2 linked regions of the Homo sapiens genome follow. The protein of the gene in region 2 purifies or fractionates together with the protein of the main gene of each other region. This does not show direct contact. Each region holds a gene or a part of one and is shown on either strand. Other genes may lie near its edges.

Region 1 (7,697 bases), on a different chromosome or scaffold from region 2:
TTAAAGTTTAGTAATAATTTGAGAACTGTGAGGCAGTTTGGGTTGCAGCTGAAGGGCAGCTGTTTGTGGATTAGATTACAGTATGTAAAAAGATAAAGTTTGGGCAACCAAAAATTTTTTTGTTTAATGCCAAGGCAGTGTTTGCTTTTATTCTTATTTTTTAAATTTAATCTTTGAGAGATTCATTGTGTAGTTACCTAATAAAGCTCATTATAAAATAGAGGACATGGTCATTGTAATCCCTAAAGGATCCATCAATGTGTAGTGAAAAGAGAGTTGACTATAAAGTCAAATCATTCTGGATTGTAACCTCAGCTGTGAGATTTAATAGTTGGGTGATTTGGGGCAAGTTATTTGACCTTGCTTTACCCCTGATTTCTTCATTTCTAAAATAAGAGATAACTTCAAAGGGTTAAGAATGTGAAAAGTAAATGAGCTAGTTCTTAATTAAAGTACTTGGCATAAGACCGGATACTTTGTAAGTGATATTTAACATTAGTTGCCTTCCTACATTGTGAAATCACAGTTTTAAAACTCACATTAAAAATACTTTAAACGGTTGTTTTGAATATTATAAACTTGTTAATAAGGAATTATGGTATTCGAGCTTCTTTTTTTTTTGAAACATACTGTTATACTAATTGGGTATAGTCTATCTGAGTTAGAGTTCTTGAATATAACAATTGTAAAGCAATCTGTGACATTACCAATAAATTAAGTCTAAGCGAAGTGCAGTATGTTATATTCACTTAGGATAAAATGTGATACTGTATTTCATAGAACCTTAGAATTTTTGTCTCTGACACCAGGACATTTCATACTATTTAATAATGACTTGGCTAGCCTTGCAAGCTTCTTGAGGCTCAGAAGAATTCTAAGTTTCGTTGGTTTTGGTACTTGTGTTAGTGCTGTGGTTCATACATAGAGTGCCTCAGTTAAAAATTGTTGATGGATTAATTTTTATCTAGTTTAGGAACTTCATTATAGTAGACTTTACAGTCAGCGTATTGGTAATGGTTGCTCTGAGTTTTGTTCAGACAACTACTTAATTTGTGAAAGTCCCCAATATTTGCTAATGATATTATTAAATACTGTCTGTAATGCATGCCAAAATGTATTTTGAAGCCCAAATGCTTCCTCTCGCCATTTGTACTGCAAGGATAGACTGTCTTATCAGTCCAGTAGTGCATCTCTTTACTGGTACTGAATCACTTGAAAAGATACAGTGTTCTTCCTGGGTAAACCCCTCCTGGTATACTTTAATTATTGTGTTCAAAGTGAATTCCCAGAATATGGACACACTAGTTCAAATATAATTATTAGAATATAATTTATTTAAAAGTATAGTTGAATTTTATAATTTTTGATTAACTCCTTTACGTTTCCACTAAGAACTAAAAAACTGACTCTCTTGGTTGCTGTCTAATACCTAGAAAAGCAGAAAGGTTCCAAAATGATGTAGATTTGAACTCTAACTTTTTTTTTTTTTATTTGAGACGGAGTCTCGCTCTGTCGCCCAGGCCGGACTGCGGACTGCAGTGGCGCAATCTCGGCTCACTGCAAGCTCCGCTTCCCGGGTTCACGCCATTCTCCTGCCTCAGCCTCCCGAGTAGCTGGGACTACAGGCGCCCGCCACCGCGCCCGGCTAATTTTTTGTATTTTTTTTTAGTAGAGACGGGGTTTCACCTTGTTAGCCAGGATGGTCTCGATCTCCTGACCTCATGATCCACCCGCCTCGGCCTCCCAAAGTGCTGGGATTACAGGCGTGAGCCACCGCACCCGGCCCTGAACTCTAACTTTTTATTTTCCAGTTTCTTCTGGTTAGGAGTTTTCTCATTTGTTTAATCATTCAGTTAGACAAAATGGACATTGACTGAACATTTATATACCAGATGCTGAATTAACTGCTGGAAGAATAAAAATGAGGAAACTCTTTCCCCCTTTTAAGGGTTTCATTGGAATAGACATAAGGAAATGATTGCAGGTGGAAAAATAAATTAAGTAATCAAACTATATAGGAAACAGAGGTAACCCAATAGTAGCCAGAGGAGAGAATGATTAACTGTCTGGTGGGTAAAAGGATCAGAGAAGTCTCATAGAGGGGTTGACTTCTTAAAAGAATAATGGTGGACATAGTGGAAGGAAATATGTGCTCTCTTGGGAATATACCATACCCTGGGAAGGGGAAAGTTAGGAAGCAGAGGAGCTGCCTAGGGTGCTGCTGATATAATCTGACGGATGATAGAAGACTGGACCATGGCGTTGGCTACAGAAATGAAGTCAAATACATATTAAAATGGAAGAATTATCTAATTTGCTTTCTTCAGATTTCAGACTGATTTTGTAGTCCCCCCACTCTATGCAGTGAATTTTATTTCTTTATTAAAATGTAGAGGCTGCCCATCCAGTGTGAATTCCTCAATTGTCTGCCCAGACTTACTGTCTTTACCCTGATTCAAAGAATAAAGCGTTGCTATTCTTTTCCAAGGGTAACTTGGAAAAACGTTTATGCTTCTAATACTGTTTCCTCAAGATTCTTTGTAGAACTAAGATCTTCTCTTCATTTCTCCCTTACAGTTGGCTCAGTTTTCTCATGTTCAGCAAGCAATTTTTATGTTCTTCACATGGACCAGGTACTATGTTAGGCATGGGCTGAAAGTGGGAGATATGGAATGATAACGACAATATTACAAAAACTTTTTTTTGAAGGCTCTACAGACAGAATAGTTTGTCTTCACTCCACAACTTTATTGCTTAACAAAGTCTTGTAAGCAAAACTCTCCCTCTGTACTGAAAATAATTTCTTAAAAGATGCTAGTAACCTCTTGCAAAATTTATGGGCATTTTTAAGTTCCACATTCTACTATTATACATACTATTACTATAATACTAGTTTTGTGCCAGGCACTGATTTCATTATTTTACTTAATATTCAGCTGTTTTAGCTACACTTATTGTCTCTGTTTTACAGTTGAGAATATAGGCTTTGAAATTTTAAAGGGCTAAAACTCAAACAGGTAACTTAACCAGTGTCACAGGGCTTAGTGAGTGACTGGTATGTGTCTGATAATCATCTCAGAGTTGTGATGTGTAAAACTTTGCACCCCAAAGTGTACCCACTTTTCACATTCTAGGTATTTCCGCCATCCTCTGTTATTCAAGCTAGAGATCTGCTGCTTATCCTCTTTGTTGTATTGCTAAACTCCTCTGATTAGCTTCTGAAATAGCTGTTGAATTCAGTCTCTCCTTCTGTTCCCATTGTCAGTTCATATCCTCATTATGTCATCGTGTGGCAGTAATATCTTCTCACCTTTTTTCACTCGGTCTACTGTATGCCTGCCAGGATTATTTCCCAGAAATCTAGATCTGATCTTGTTGTTCTCTTAAATAAAAAAACAAAACAAAACACATACACACATTTTCTAGGCTAATTTTTGCTCACAGAATACAGTCCACATTTCTTTAGTTTGGCATTCAAGGCCTTTTTTGATTTACTCCCATATGGTTTTCTTCTGTACTATTTTAACCATACACATCTCAATATATCTGCCTCTCTGCATAGTTCACTTCATTACATACAGTCCTTCTCAGAGAGGATTGGGGAGAGTTTGCCAGTCTAAAGCACCAACCCCCATTCCACCTCTTTCTCCGTGGAGACTGTATGCCCCTACTTGAGAATCTTTCAGTCAAAGAAGAATGTTTGCTATTCCTTGAACATGGCATGTAGTTTAATATTCGCTTGACCTTGCGTAGGTATTTCCTTTGCCTTGAATTGCATTTCCAGCACAGTTTATCTATAGAAGTCCTAATTCTTTAAGGTTGAGGTCACATGCCATTTCTGGAGATCTTTCCTTATCCCAGTGGGAATTTATTGCTTCCTTCTCTGCTTTTTTACGTCTTTATTTATTATTTTCTAAATTGCAGTTACCATTGTCTTACTTTAGTTCTTTGTCCAGTTTCTTCCCCCTTCACTAGATCTTTAGCTTCTTGAGGGCAGGAGGCCTGTTTTACCCATTTTTAACATCCGCTTCCCCCAGCATCCATCAGATAATCACTGAGGCATTAATTGACTGGAAGAAGGGAGTGAGAGACATGGGAAAAAGAATAGTACAGTATTAAGGAGATTAGAAGGAAAAGAGTACTTTAAGATTACTGTCCTAAGGGACAATGAAATTGATGGTGCCATAAAATGGAGAAGTCATTTTGGGAAGGATGATAATGAGTTCAGCTTTGCACCTTGAATTTCACGTGATTATATAAATGTGTAAAAGGTGGCAGCAAATACTGGAATGGAGGTTTTAGTTGCCCTGAATTTCTAGTCTGATTGTTCTGTGTGTAAGATGTTGAGAAAAGGGATATAAATGGAAAAAGAGCTGAAGATTTGAATGTATGAAAATAGATAAGATGATGAGGGTGTATATCATAGGGTAGGAATCAATAAGAAGAAAGGAGTCAATAGAAGAGAAGAGAGAAAATTGTGATCTCTTAAGCTAAAACAGTTTGGATATTTGTCCCCACCCAAATCTCATGTTGAATTGTAATCCCCAATGCTGGAGGTGGGGCTTGGTGGGAGGTGTTTGGGCCATGGGAATGGATCCCTGATGGCTTGGTGTTGTTTTTGCAATAGTGAGTTCTGGCAAGATCTGGTTGTTTAAAAGTGTGCACCTACCCTCTTACTCTTTCTCACTCCTACTTTGCCATGTGAGATGCCTACTCCTGCTTCACCTTCCATCTTGAGCAGAAACACCCTGAGGCCTCCCGAGAAGCAGATGCTGGCACCATGCTTCCTGTACAGCCTACAGAACCAATAGCCAATTAAACCTCTTTTAAATTACCCAGGCTCAGATGCTTCTTTATAGCAGTGCAAGAACAGCCTATTACAGAAAATTGGTAAGTGGGCGTGGAGCATTGCTCTAAAGATACCTGAAAATATGGAAGCAGCTTTGAAACTGGGTAACAGGCAGAGGTTGGAAGAGTTTGGAGGACTCAGAAGACAGGAAAATGAGGGAAAGTTTGGAACTTCTTAGAGACTGGTTGAATGGTTGTGACCAAAATGCTGGTAGTGATACGGACAATGAAGTCCATGATGATGAGGTCTCAGGTGGAAATGAAGAACTTAGTAGGAACTGGAGCAAAGGTCACCCTCATTATGCTTTAGCAAAGCACTTGGTTGCATTCTGTTCATTCTGTAGGGACCTGTGGAAGTTTGAACTTGAGAGTGATGACCTCTGGTATCTGGCGGAAGAAATGTCTAAGCAGCAAAGTGTTCAAGATGTGTCCTGGATGCTGCTAACAGCCCATGCTAAGATGTAGGAGCAAAGAAATGACTTAAAGTTGGAATTTGTTTTTAAACAGGAAGCACTGCATAAAGGTTTGGGAAATTTGCAGCCTAGCCATGTGGCAAAGAAAGAAAAAGCTTTTTCAGGGGAGGAATTCAAGCAGGCTATAGAGCAACCACGTGCTAGAGATATTTGCATAATTAAACACATGCCAAAGTGCTGATATCCGTGAAGTTGGAGAAAAGGCCTTCAAGGCATTTTAGAAACCTTCACAGCAGCCCCTCTCATCATAGGCCCAGAGGCCTAGGAAGAAAGAATGGTTTTGTGGGCCTGGGCTAGCCGGGCCTTGCTGCCTTGCACAGCCTCAAGACACTGCTCCCTGCATCCCAGCCACTCAGGCTTCCAGCCTTGTTCAAAGGGGCCCAGGTACAGTTCGGGCTGCTGCTTCAAAGGGTGCAAGCCATAAGACTTGATGGCTTACATGTATTATTAAGCCTGCAGGTGCCCAGAGTGCAAGAACTGAGGCTTGGGAGCCTCTGCCTAGATTTCAGAGGATGTATGAGAAAGCCTGGGTGTCTAGGCAGAAGCCTGCTGCAGGGGTGGAGCCCTCATTGAGGATCTCTATTAGGGTGGGGCCAAGGGGAAATGTGGGGTTGGAGCCCCCCAGAGTCCCCAGTGGGGCACTGCCTAGTGGAGCTGTGAGAAGGGGCCTACCATCCTCCAGACCACAGAATGGTAGATCCACTGGCAGTTTGCATCCTATACCTGGAGAAGCCACAGGCATTCAACTAAAACCTGTGAGAGCATTCCTGGGGGCTAAACCCTGCAAAGCCACAGGGCAGAGTTGCCCAAAGCCTTGGGAGCCCACCCTTTGCAGCAGTGTGCCTTGAATGTGGAACATAGAGTCAAAGGAGATTATTTTGGAGCTTTAAGATTTAATGACTGCCCTGCTGGGTTTTGAACTTGCATGGGGCCTGTAGCCCCTTTCTTTTGGTTGATTTCTCCTTTTTGAAATGGCAATGTTTATCCAATGCCTATATCCTCATTGTATCTTGGGAGTAAATAACTTATTTGTGACTTTACAGCCTCATAAGTGGAAGGGACTTGCCTTGTTTCAGATGAGACTTTGGACTTCAGAGTTAATGCTGGAATGAGTTAAGACTTTGGGAGACTGTTGGGAAGGCATGAGTTTATTTTGCAGTGTGAGAAGGACATGAGATTTGGGAGGGGCCGTGGGCAGAATGATACAGTTTGGATATTTGTCCCCACCCGAATCTCATGTTGAATTGTAATCTCCAATGCTGGAGATGGGGCATGGTGGGAGGTGTTTGGGTCATGGGAGTGGATCCCTCATGGCTTGGTGCTGTCTTCGTGATAGTAGGTTTTCACAACATCTGGTTATTTAAAAGCCTGTGGCTCCTTCCCCCCAGCTCCCTCTTGCTCCCGCTCTGCCATGTGAGATGCCTGCACACGCTTCGTCTTTGCTATGAGTAAAAGCTTCCTGAAGCCATCCCAGAAGCAAGTGCTGGTGCCCTGCTTCCTGTATAGGCTGCAGAAATGATAGCCAATTAAACCTCTTTTCTTATAAATTACCCAGTCTTAGGTGTTTCTTTGTAACAATGCAAGAATGGCCTGATACATAAGCCAGGAGAAGAGTTTTGAATTGAAGGGGCTGCTAGACTGTTGCATTGAAGTTGAAGTCCAGAGAACGAGGTTCTGCTTTAATCTGAGGAAGATATGGCATGCTATTTAACCTCTCTGGCTTCAATTTCCTCACCTCTAAAATGCATACTACTTTATACTTGCAGCACTTTAGCCTCCTACCTTTGTAATTCTCACATATCACTACAGACCTGGAATATTGAAAAGGTTAAAAAGAAAGCATTTGTAGCCTTGTTAAATCACTGTGAGTAGTAGTCCCACAAACAATAATGAATACATGTAGGAGTGGTGGTATTTCATAGCACTTTAAATTTAAATTACAGTCAACTCTCAATTTCCTTTTAAGTGATCCACCTGCAGTGACTTGCTGCCTCCTCCCGCTCCCAGGTCTCAGGCTACCAAGAATAAGACTGCGAAAAGCACAGTGGGGTGAGCGAATGATTTGCTTGCCTGTGTATCTGTGCCTCTGTCACCAAGCTATTAAATACAGTCCATTCTCAATTACCTGCCTTAAAAAGATGAATAATGGTAGAAGAATGCTAAATATATAATCTAAATACTTTATATTGGTGAGAAAATATTTTATGTTCTTTTCTCTCCCACAATAGATTGATGTATATTTTCTTTTACATTTTATTTGAATTATTAGCACAGATTTTTGTTTCCTAAGCAAATACTGTTAGTGGAAGAACATAAACAGGTTAAAATATTTGTTAATCTGTATGAATAATTGAAGTTGACTGTTAATGCTTTTTG
Region 2 (8,656 bases):
CATGTGTGTGTTTAACTTTTTAAACAGGTGGAATCATAACGCAGATGACGTTTGGTAATTGCATTTCCATCTAAAAGTGTATAGTATGTTAAGAATTATGTATTTCTCCTAAAATAGCTTACAAGCTTGTATAACATGCAATGCAGGTTCAATACTATACACATATCATACCTTAGTAAATCCACTGCTGTTAGACACATGTAATCCTCAGCTTTTTATTATAAACAGCACCTCCATAAACATACATGTAGGTACTTCTTTGTGACTATTTGGATTTTTTTTCTTTAGGACATGAAATTGCTCGATGGAAAGGAACACCCCTCATTTTTTAAAAGCATTTTATATGTGTCGCCAAATTATCTTCTTGTCTGCACTATCCGGTATGGTAGCCACATGTGGCTATTAAAGTTCAAATTAGTTAAACTTATATAAAATTAAAAATTCACTTCCTCAATCGCACTAACTACATTTCAAGTGCTCGAGTCACATATGGCTAGTAGCTACTGTATTGAACTGCACAGATATAGAACTTTTCTACCGACCTAGAAAGTTCTACTGGACAGCGCAAGTCTAGAAAGACTGCACCAATTTACATTTTCCCTAGTAAGAAATGACAGTGCCTATCTCCCACAAATTGGCCAATACTGAATATTGTAATTTTTAAAAAAGTTTTTGCCAACCTAATAAAAATCATATTGTTTGATTTTTTCATTTCTTTGATTAATAACGACCTTTTTAGTTCATTTATTGACTCATATTTTTTTCTCTTGTGAATTATGCACTTAGGCTATTTCCTATTGGGATTTTGCTTTTACTGCTTTTTATATATGAAAATCAATCTTAAGAGAGTGATTTATGTGGCAATAGTTATTGTAACTTCTTATGTTTTTTCATGGCTTATTTTTCATTTATAGAAGTGTAAAATTTTAATATATTCAAATCTCTATTTTCCTTTATGGTTTCTTCCTTATCATGTTTTAAAAGCTCTAAACCTAAGATTACAGTAATATTCATCTAAATTATCTTCTAGTTCTTTGATCATTTCATTCTAAATATTTAGATTTTCAACCTTTCTGAAATTTATTTATGTGTATGGTTTGTAAAGTATAAATCTAACCTTTTTCATTCTCCATGTTATCAATCACTTGTCCAGGAACCATTTTTTTTTAAATTAATGAATCATTATATACTGATTGGAAATTCCACTAAATGTTTACATGTGTTTGGATCTACATGTACTTGTCTTTTTAGATTTTCTACTCTATCCACCTATTCTTTGGCCTTTACCATCCTGTTTTTATTAATTTACATTATAATACATTTTAATATTTGGAGAGAGAATATGGCTTCATTATTCTTTTCCAAAAATGTTTCAGCTCTTTTTACCTGTTTTTTTTTTTTTTGCTAAGATAAGCCTAGAATCATTTTGTTAAATTCTTATCATCAAAACAAACTCTTTCAGAACTTTGACTGAAAAGTTGAATTCAATTTCTAAATTAATTTGGGGAAAACTGGTTATCTCTACAGTATCCATATCTCTATAGTATCTCTACAGTCATCCATTCAGAGACATGGTGATTCTGTCCCCCTTTTTTTTTTTTTTTAGATTTTCCTGAATATCATTCTGAATTGGCTTTTTAAAAAAGCACGGAGGAGGAGCACCTCCGACTGTTTTCATGCACTGTCTCTAAGTCTGTGAGCTGATGCTTCCAGCCACTAGAAGTAACAAAAGAAATTCCATTCCTTAGCACTGGAGCATATTTTCAGTATCCACCTTCTCATAAATCTGCAGAAAAGAAATCTCACTTTTCATCCAAAGAATCTGGAGTTCAAAACAGCCTTTACGGAAAAATCAAACTCCAGGGGCAACTGCAAAGCACATTTGGTGTCTAGCTAGCCAGCTTATTTTGCAGGACTCTTTTTCCAACTCCTAAATACTTTCCAGTCTGTGAAATCCATCTCCCCACCACTGTAACAGCAAAGCGCCTCTCCTGGCACTGGAGAGCTCACTCAGTTTTAATGAGCACGGATCTTCTGTGAGGGGCTTTTTATCGTTGAAGCTGGTTTTCAGCAGATAGCATGAAGCTTCCTTGGGTGACTGTGGCTTGGCAAACTTATGCGGATTTGGGAAGTGCTTCATTGGTCAGAATTCAGCTCTCCCTTGAGCAAATCCTAAAGCCTAACCACTTTTTGCAAGGAAACCAGGGCTCCTGCACCTCCCTGGTAGCCCACCAGTCAAATGGCCAAGAGCTTGAATTCACTACATCTGGGGTACTCAAGTCGAAGGGGAGGGACATTTGGCAATGTCTGGAGGCATTTTTAGTTGTCACCACTAATAAGGAAGGAGTGGGGGGCGGGGGATGTTACTGGCATCCAGTGGGCAGAGGCCAAGGATGCTGCTAAACATCCTACAACGCGCAGGACAGCCCCCACCACAAAGAATTACCAGGTTTCAATCTCAGAAGTGCCAAGGTTAAGAAACCCTGCCTTTCATTCTCACTCAGTGCCCGGTGAGAAGTATGCATTACATGATTAGGAGCAAAGATAATGCCTTCCGTGGGACAGCGTTTCAAAACAAAACAAAAAAACAAAAACAAAAACAAAATGCGACGATTGGCTTTAAAATGCCCAAGCCTCTAACTTTAGGAGTGCCTGTGCCTGCAAGTTCTGCCTTTGGTAAGCAAGCCTTTCCCACCAACACGGGAGGGAGTCACAGAAACTCAGCAAGACAATAGCATCCTCCAAGCCCCTTGCCTGCTCCTGGGACACAGAAAGCAAGACAGAAAAGAAGTCTGTCCCCTTCCGAGCAAGCGGCGTCGCCTCGGCTGCGGGCTCTGGAGCCGAGGCTGGGAGGAGCGCGCCCCAACAAAGGCGCAGCACTCCGCCGCCGCCTGCCGCGCGGTCCCTCTGTGGCCCTGGAGATGCGCTCCTGTCCCCAGGCGACCCTGCCAACGAGCCCGGCCCGGGGCGAAAGCGTTTTCGCCCGCTTAGCCTGGGGTGGGGGGGACAACTCGCGGCACTTACTTGTCCAAAATGAAGTACAGGTCAAATCCGCCGTAGCAGGCTGGACCCCCATCCTCCCTGCGTCCCCCTTGCCCGGCGCAGATGAGCACCAGAGTGGCCAAAGAGAGCCACTGGAAGCCGATGCCGAGGGCTCTCCGCTCCGCCGTGGCCATGGCCCGCAGCCCGGGGAGAGCAGGGTCCGCTCCTTCCCACGCTCCGCGAACTCGCCACGACCCTCAGGGACGCGCCATCCGCGGGCCCTTCCTCGCGGGTCCTTTATTCCCCCTCGCTCCCTCGCAACTCCCCGGAAGCAATTGTCTGGAGGAGTTCAAGGTTTCCCCTCTGGTTTCCGCTCCGATGCTGTTTCTGGGTTTCGGGTTTCAAGGATCCCAATCCTGTCCTCCGCTTCTTTTAAAGGGGAGGGCTGCCTCGGTCCGGGGCCGCCGGGCAGCTCCCGAGGCCGCGCCGAGCTTTTGCAATGGAAGGAGTTCCGTCCCGACGGTTCTTTGTCCCAGATTTTAAATATGATGGGGGGGGGGGGGGGTTTCAAATTGTTCTTGGTGGGGGCAGTGCTTTGCCTTCTCTCCTTCCTCTCTGCCCCCCTTTCGCGTTCTTACGGGGAAGAAAGTTCAAAGGCTGCCACCTTGTGGACAAAGGCGGCGAAAGCACGCGTGGGACCCGCGGGAGTGCGTCGGGGGCGGGGGCGCTTCCAGGCTTCGCGTATAAATTTCCTTGTCCTTACCATTCTCATGTGAGCTGTGCGTGTTTTCTTACTCCTTCCTTCTTCCCACGCACTTTCCCTTTCTTTTTCCGTGACCGCCTCTCCATTCTCTGTAGTCCTTCTATTCCTTCTTTTCCTTCCCTATCCTGCATCTTTTGATAAGGTCACTAAACATTGGATGAGAATTTGTTTCCTCCAACCACGGTGACTCCGGCTCCCCAGGCTAGGACCTTTGCAAACAAACCATTGTGCAGATGAAGTAGGGGAAAAACGGGACCTTTGTGGTATGAGTCATCAGAGTGACCTTACATGGTCTTAGTCTGTCTGGACCATAAAAGAGACTGTTGGGGTCCGGTCTGAAACCATCACAAACAACCCCACAGAGTGTGGTACTTAGGGCTGCTCCCGGCATGGAACAGCTGAGCCTTCTAGATGGCCACCATCTCCATCTTTTAGGGATTCTATGATAATAGTTCTTCTTTTCAGCCTGTGAACTTTGACATTTTCTCTCTATCTTTGATTTAGGATGGAGGAAGTAAACAGCTTACAAGAGTAGAGACGCTCCAAGCAGTTTGGAATTGGCAGGGAAGTTCCGTGCTAGCCTCTCTAAATTGGAGAATCAGCCTCTGAGCCCCAGTTCCGAGTGGTACCCCAGTTCTAGCTTCCTATTGTCTTCCGCTCTGGGAGCCCTCAGTGCATATGCATGTACTGTTTTCCCAGGATTCTTCCTCCAGACACACATATTCCCCTCCACTTGTGTGCCTCCCAGACCCTTATACCCCAATGTGACAGTCCATGGTGGTTTCCCCCAACATGTGTACCATGGAATCTTAGTGTCTTGGAATGCTCCACTAACCAATAATCATGTTGTCAAATCAGCCTTGAAGATTTGTCATGCGTAGCACTGACCTGCCTCCAAAATGAACCCAGTGTTTCTCACCTCCTGGAATTCACACCCCTTCCACCTTGGGTGAGACTGACCTGTGAGTAATTAAGAAGATGGTGTGTGGCTTCTGAGGATAGGCCATGAGAGATGTTGTGGTTTTTCCCTTCTCTCTTGGATCACTCACTGTAGGAGAGCCCACTGCCATGTCGTGAGAACACACAAGCAGCCCCAAGGAGGGGTCCGTGTGGTAAGGAACTGAGACCCCTGCTGGCAGCCAACACCACTTTGCCAACATTGTGAGTGACCCATCTTGGACATAGGTTCCTGACATCCTGTGAAGCCTTCAGCTGACTGCAGCCCTGTCTGACATCTTGACTGCAACCTCATGAGAGATCCCAAACAAGAACTACCCAGCTAAGCCATTCCCTGATTCCTGATCCACAGAAATAAGCGAATTTTTATTAGTGTTTTAAGTCTCTAAGTTTGGGGGCAATTTTAAATATAATAAAAGATAACTAATATATGCCTAGTATCATATTAAAGCCTTGAGAATTTCTGTAGGAAAAAAATTGCTGAACTGTGTTTCCCAGACTTACTTGACCATGAAACTGTTGTTTCATAGATAAAATGTATTAAACCCATACTTTGGGAATTATTGCTCTCAGGAAAAAAATAATTGGAGGGAGATTAAAATACCCTAACCATCCAAGTCTTCCTCTTCCATGTCTTCTTTCTCCTCAAAGGATTGAAAACCCATGCTGACCCCACTGCAGCTCGATGACTTGAAAGACAGTGAGGAAATCTATAGAAATCAGATGGGTAAGGGAAAGCAGAAACACTGGTGGGAGCTGGTAAGAGAAGAAAAGGGATATGACAATGTGATGGAGAGAGTGTTTATGGGATTGGCAAGGAATAGGAAAGAGCTTGAATGTGGAAAGCGGGTGGAGGGGTGAGATGAATCAGGGAAGCATTAAGAATATCTTCTCTCACCGTCATGCCCCCAGGGCCGTCTCAAGTTGTTAAGAGTTTAGGTGACAGAGGAATGTGTTGAGAGCTTTACAGGCAAAATAGTTTAGGAAATTACCCCGGAAGGAAGCAGGGGGTGTCCTGATAGAGCTCTTCAAAGTTACAGACACCATTATCCAAGATAGATGAGGGCATAGTTCTTCCAGGGGTGGGAGGAGAGAGGATATTCTGTGGGAAACAAGGTTATGGGGAAGGGGAGAAAGATCAAGAGGCTCCTCTGGACAAAGATGGTATTTTCCAGGGCAGACAGGCAGTGAGAGGAATTCAGATATTTGAGTGTCCCAGTGCCTCTGCCTCTCTTCCAGGATTCTAGAAAGAAGTCCATCTCTAGATCTTAAAATGCCTCTACCCTGCTCTCCCTCCAGCCTGAGGAAATACATTCCAGGCTGCCTCTTCTACCTAGAGGGCTTTGTGCCAGCCTCACTCACTGTAGGGAGGTGTTCTCCAAACATTCTTGAGAAGTGAGCTTGAAGTTGAGCTGCAGAGATATGGTTATTCGCAGGGAGAGTTTAAATACGACAAAGATGTCCATAGTCTATAACAGTGGTAAATGAAGCCTCTTCTGTGATCCCAGCATGTTCGCTCAGCGGGGGATGTTGTCAGGTGTCAAAAATTGGCAACAACTTTTGCCTTTGTTTGTTAGGCTGTAGTGGCCTCATAATTAGTGCTTGTAGAGAAATGGGAGAGGTGGGTCAGTCACTGCAGGCTAGAAGGCGGCTTGGGGAGAGTCTTGGTGGGTTCCTGCTAGCATTTTCCAGAATGATTTTACAACTCAGAGACATATAAATGTCAAGATCTTCCTACACAAATGTTACCATCCTCTTGAGGTAATTCTCAGTGTTCTGACTTGATTGGGAGTGTCCTGGTTCCTAATGCCTTCCAAGGCCTCCAGTGTTCTGGAAGAGGTTGATCAGCCTTTTCAAGGCCTATAAAGATAGATACATGAGGTTTGGAAGGGACTCTTCTGCTTCTTTAATTCAAGGCAGTGGAAGAACGATATACATGGTGATGTTCAGCCTGTGGATGGATATTTCTGGACTTGGAGAAGTACAGGAGAAAATTAACCATGCACGTGGGAGCATTTGAAGGGTAACCTGGAAGCCTAGGCAGGAAAGAGTTTCTTGCAGGAAGAAGTAGTCAACAGAGCCATATGCTGTGGAAGTCAGGAGGATAAGCCCTAAGAAAACTCCAGTGATTTGGCACAAGTGTCACTGTGTCACAAAGGAGCATTCCAGTAAAGTAATGCGAACAATGTTAGACTGTGCTGGGTTACCAGGAAGCAGAAAACTCTCTTTCAAGAAGATAAGGGGATAAGGGGTAACTTGTAAATGTTCAAATGTTTTATTTGCCACAAGGAAGAATCCCAAGATATTCAAAGGTACCAGGAATTTCAAGGTCCCTGCCTTCCAAAAGATTGGAGAGTTTGTCTGACTAGACTGATTGTCTCAAGGCTTTAGTCCTGCACTCTGATCACTGTTCTACCTGAATTTACTAGGCTTCCTTCCTTGAGACAGTAATTATTAAATATGCCCTGCCTATCTACAATATCAGCCTCTTAGTAACTCGCTCTCTCTTACTTGCCCTCTACTTTCAAACACATGTGAGCGAGCCCTTTTCCCCGGTTGTCAAACACAAAGTTTACTGTCCTAATAATCTGTCAAGAACTCACTGGGCACTAAGTGCCATTTGTCTGCATTCTTAACATTTTAGAAAAGGTTCCAGGTAACCCAGACTACCCCAAAAAAATTTGAGTAAAAAACAATTTTTTTTCCCTAGAGAAGAAATATTTGCCACAATGTGGAAAAATCTGATACTCTCCATAAAGTTTTATGTCAGTCAGGTAGGTCCAGTGTTTTCCAGGATCTTGGAGGATCCTGTAGTCTCTGGGACCACCATAGGCAAAAAGTGAAGTGAGTGTTCCCAGAAGCAATTAATCATCTGGAACAACAAAGTGTCTTAAGAATCTGAATCAGCTGAGTATTGACTTTTGGTGATAGGGAAAGCAAAGATACAGTAATAAAATTAAGCCCAGGGGCAGAACCATAGGCTAGAGCAAGATGTCCTGATGGTATCTTATAGGTCAAGCCAGCCACAACTTCAGCCTAGAAACAGTCAAAACCTCTTTGAACTCAGCATCCCATTGATACCCTATCCAAAGCCCAACCAAGTCAACCTTAAAAATAAATTCAGTTCAATAAGTCCCTTGACTCATTTACGGACACTCCAAAACCCATCCCAAAGCCCTGCTAACACCTACTCCAATGCAGTGATGAAACCCATTCAACACAGGCCCAATCAAACTCTGACCAATTCAGAGCCCTGCAAAAAATCAGCCTATTTCCTATATCATTGTCAGCCCAGAGGCAGATCCTGTTTAATCTGGTTTGCATCCCAGCTCAGCTAAGGCCACACAACATCCCTGTGCATCTTAAGTCACAGCCAAGCCTCTGAAGAGCACATTCTTACCAAGGATCCAGTCAAGAGTAATCCATAGTTTATAACAACCTAAAACGTCCATTTCAGATGCTCAAAAGGACCCAAAGACTTGCTGAACAAAAAGTTCGTTTCATTTAGACCAGAGACCAGGCCAATCCAACTCAGAACTCAGATGACAGTGGAAATGGACCAGTACAGTCCAGGGTCCTGACAAGCCCAGAGAGTACAAATGCCCAATGGAAACCTGTATTAAGCAAGTCAAGGCCAACACAAATCTAGCCACAAGACCAATTCAGCCCAATCCTGTCCAATTCTGCTCAATTCTGACATAATTAAACATATTTAAGACTAGGGTCTTACTTGGAGACACCAGATCAATTTACAACTGAAGATGCCAGGAAAAATCTACCCAACCCATCAAGCCTAACACTCCTTTGATCATTTTGCTAATGGCCACCATCCAAGTCCCAAGCCAGAGGGACTAGTGGTTCTCAAAATGCGTGAGTATGTGTGTGTTGTGGTTGATGTGGGGAATGGGTACTGTGAAGGTGGGGACAAAGAGATTTGCTCAGTCTGAAATAACC

The links.
Region 1: the proteins of ANTXR1 (region 2) and RICTOR purify together in Homo sapiens (affinity purification with mass spectrometry; 3 studies listed by BioGRID and IntAct, with this or other methods). This does not show direct contact.

The regions. Positions count from the first base shown.
Region 1 is NC_000005.10:39,064,272-39,071,968, reverse strand, and holds part of RICTOR (rapamycin-insensitive companion of mTOR), read left to right. Parts: intron 1-7,697. UniProt on the Homo sapiens protein: Component of the mechanistic target of rapamycin complex 2 (mTORC2), which transduces signals from growth factors to pathways involved in proliferation, cytoskeletal organization, lipogenesis and anabolic output.
Region 2 is NC_000002.12:69,008,020-69,016,675, reverse strand, and holds the start of ANTXR1 (anthrax toxin receptor 1 isoform 1 precursor), read right to left. Parts: upstream 3,498-8,656; 5' UTR 3,177-3,497; coding exon 3,025-3,176; intron 1-3,024. UniProt on the Homo sapiens protein: Plays a role in cell attachment and migration. Interacts with extracellular matrix proteins and with the actin cytoskeleton and thereby plays an important role in normal extracellular matrix (ECM) homeostasis.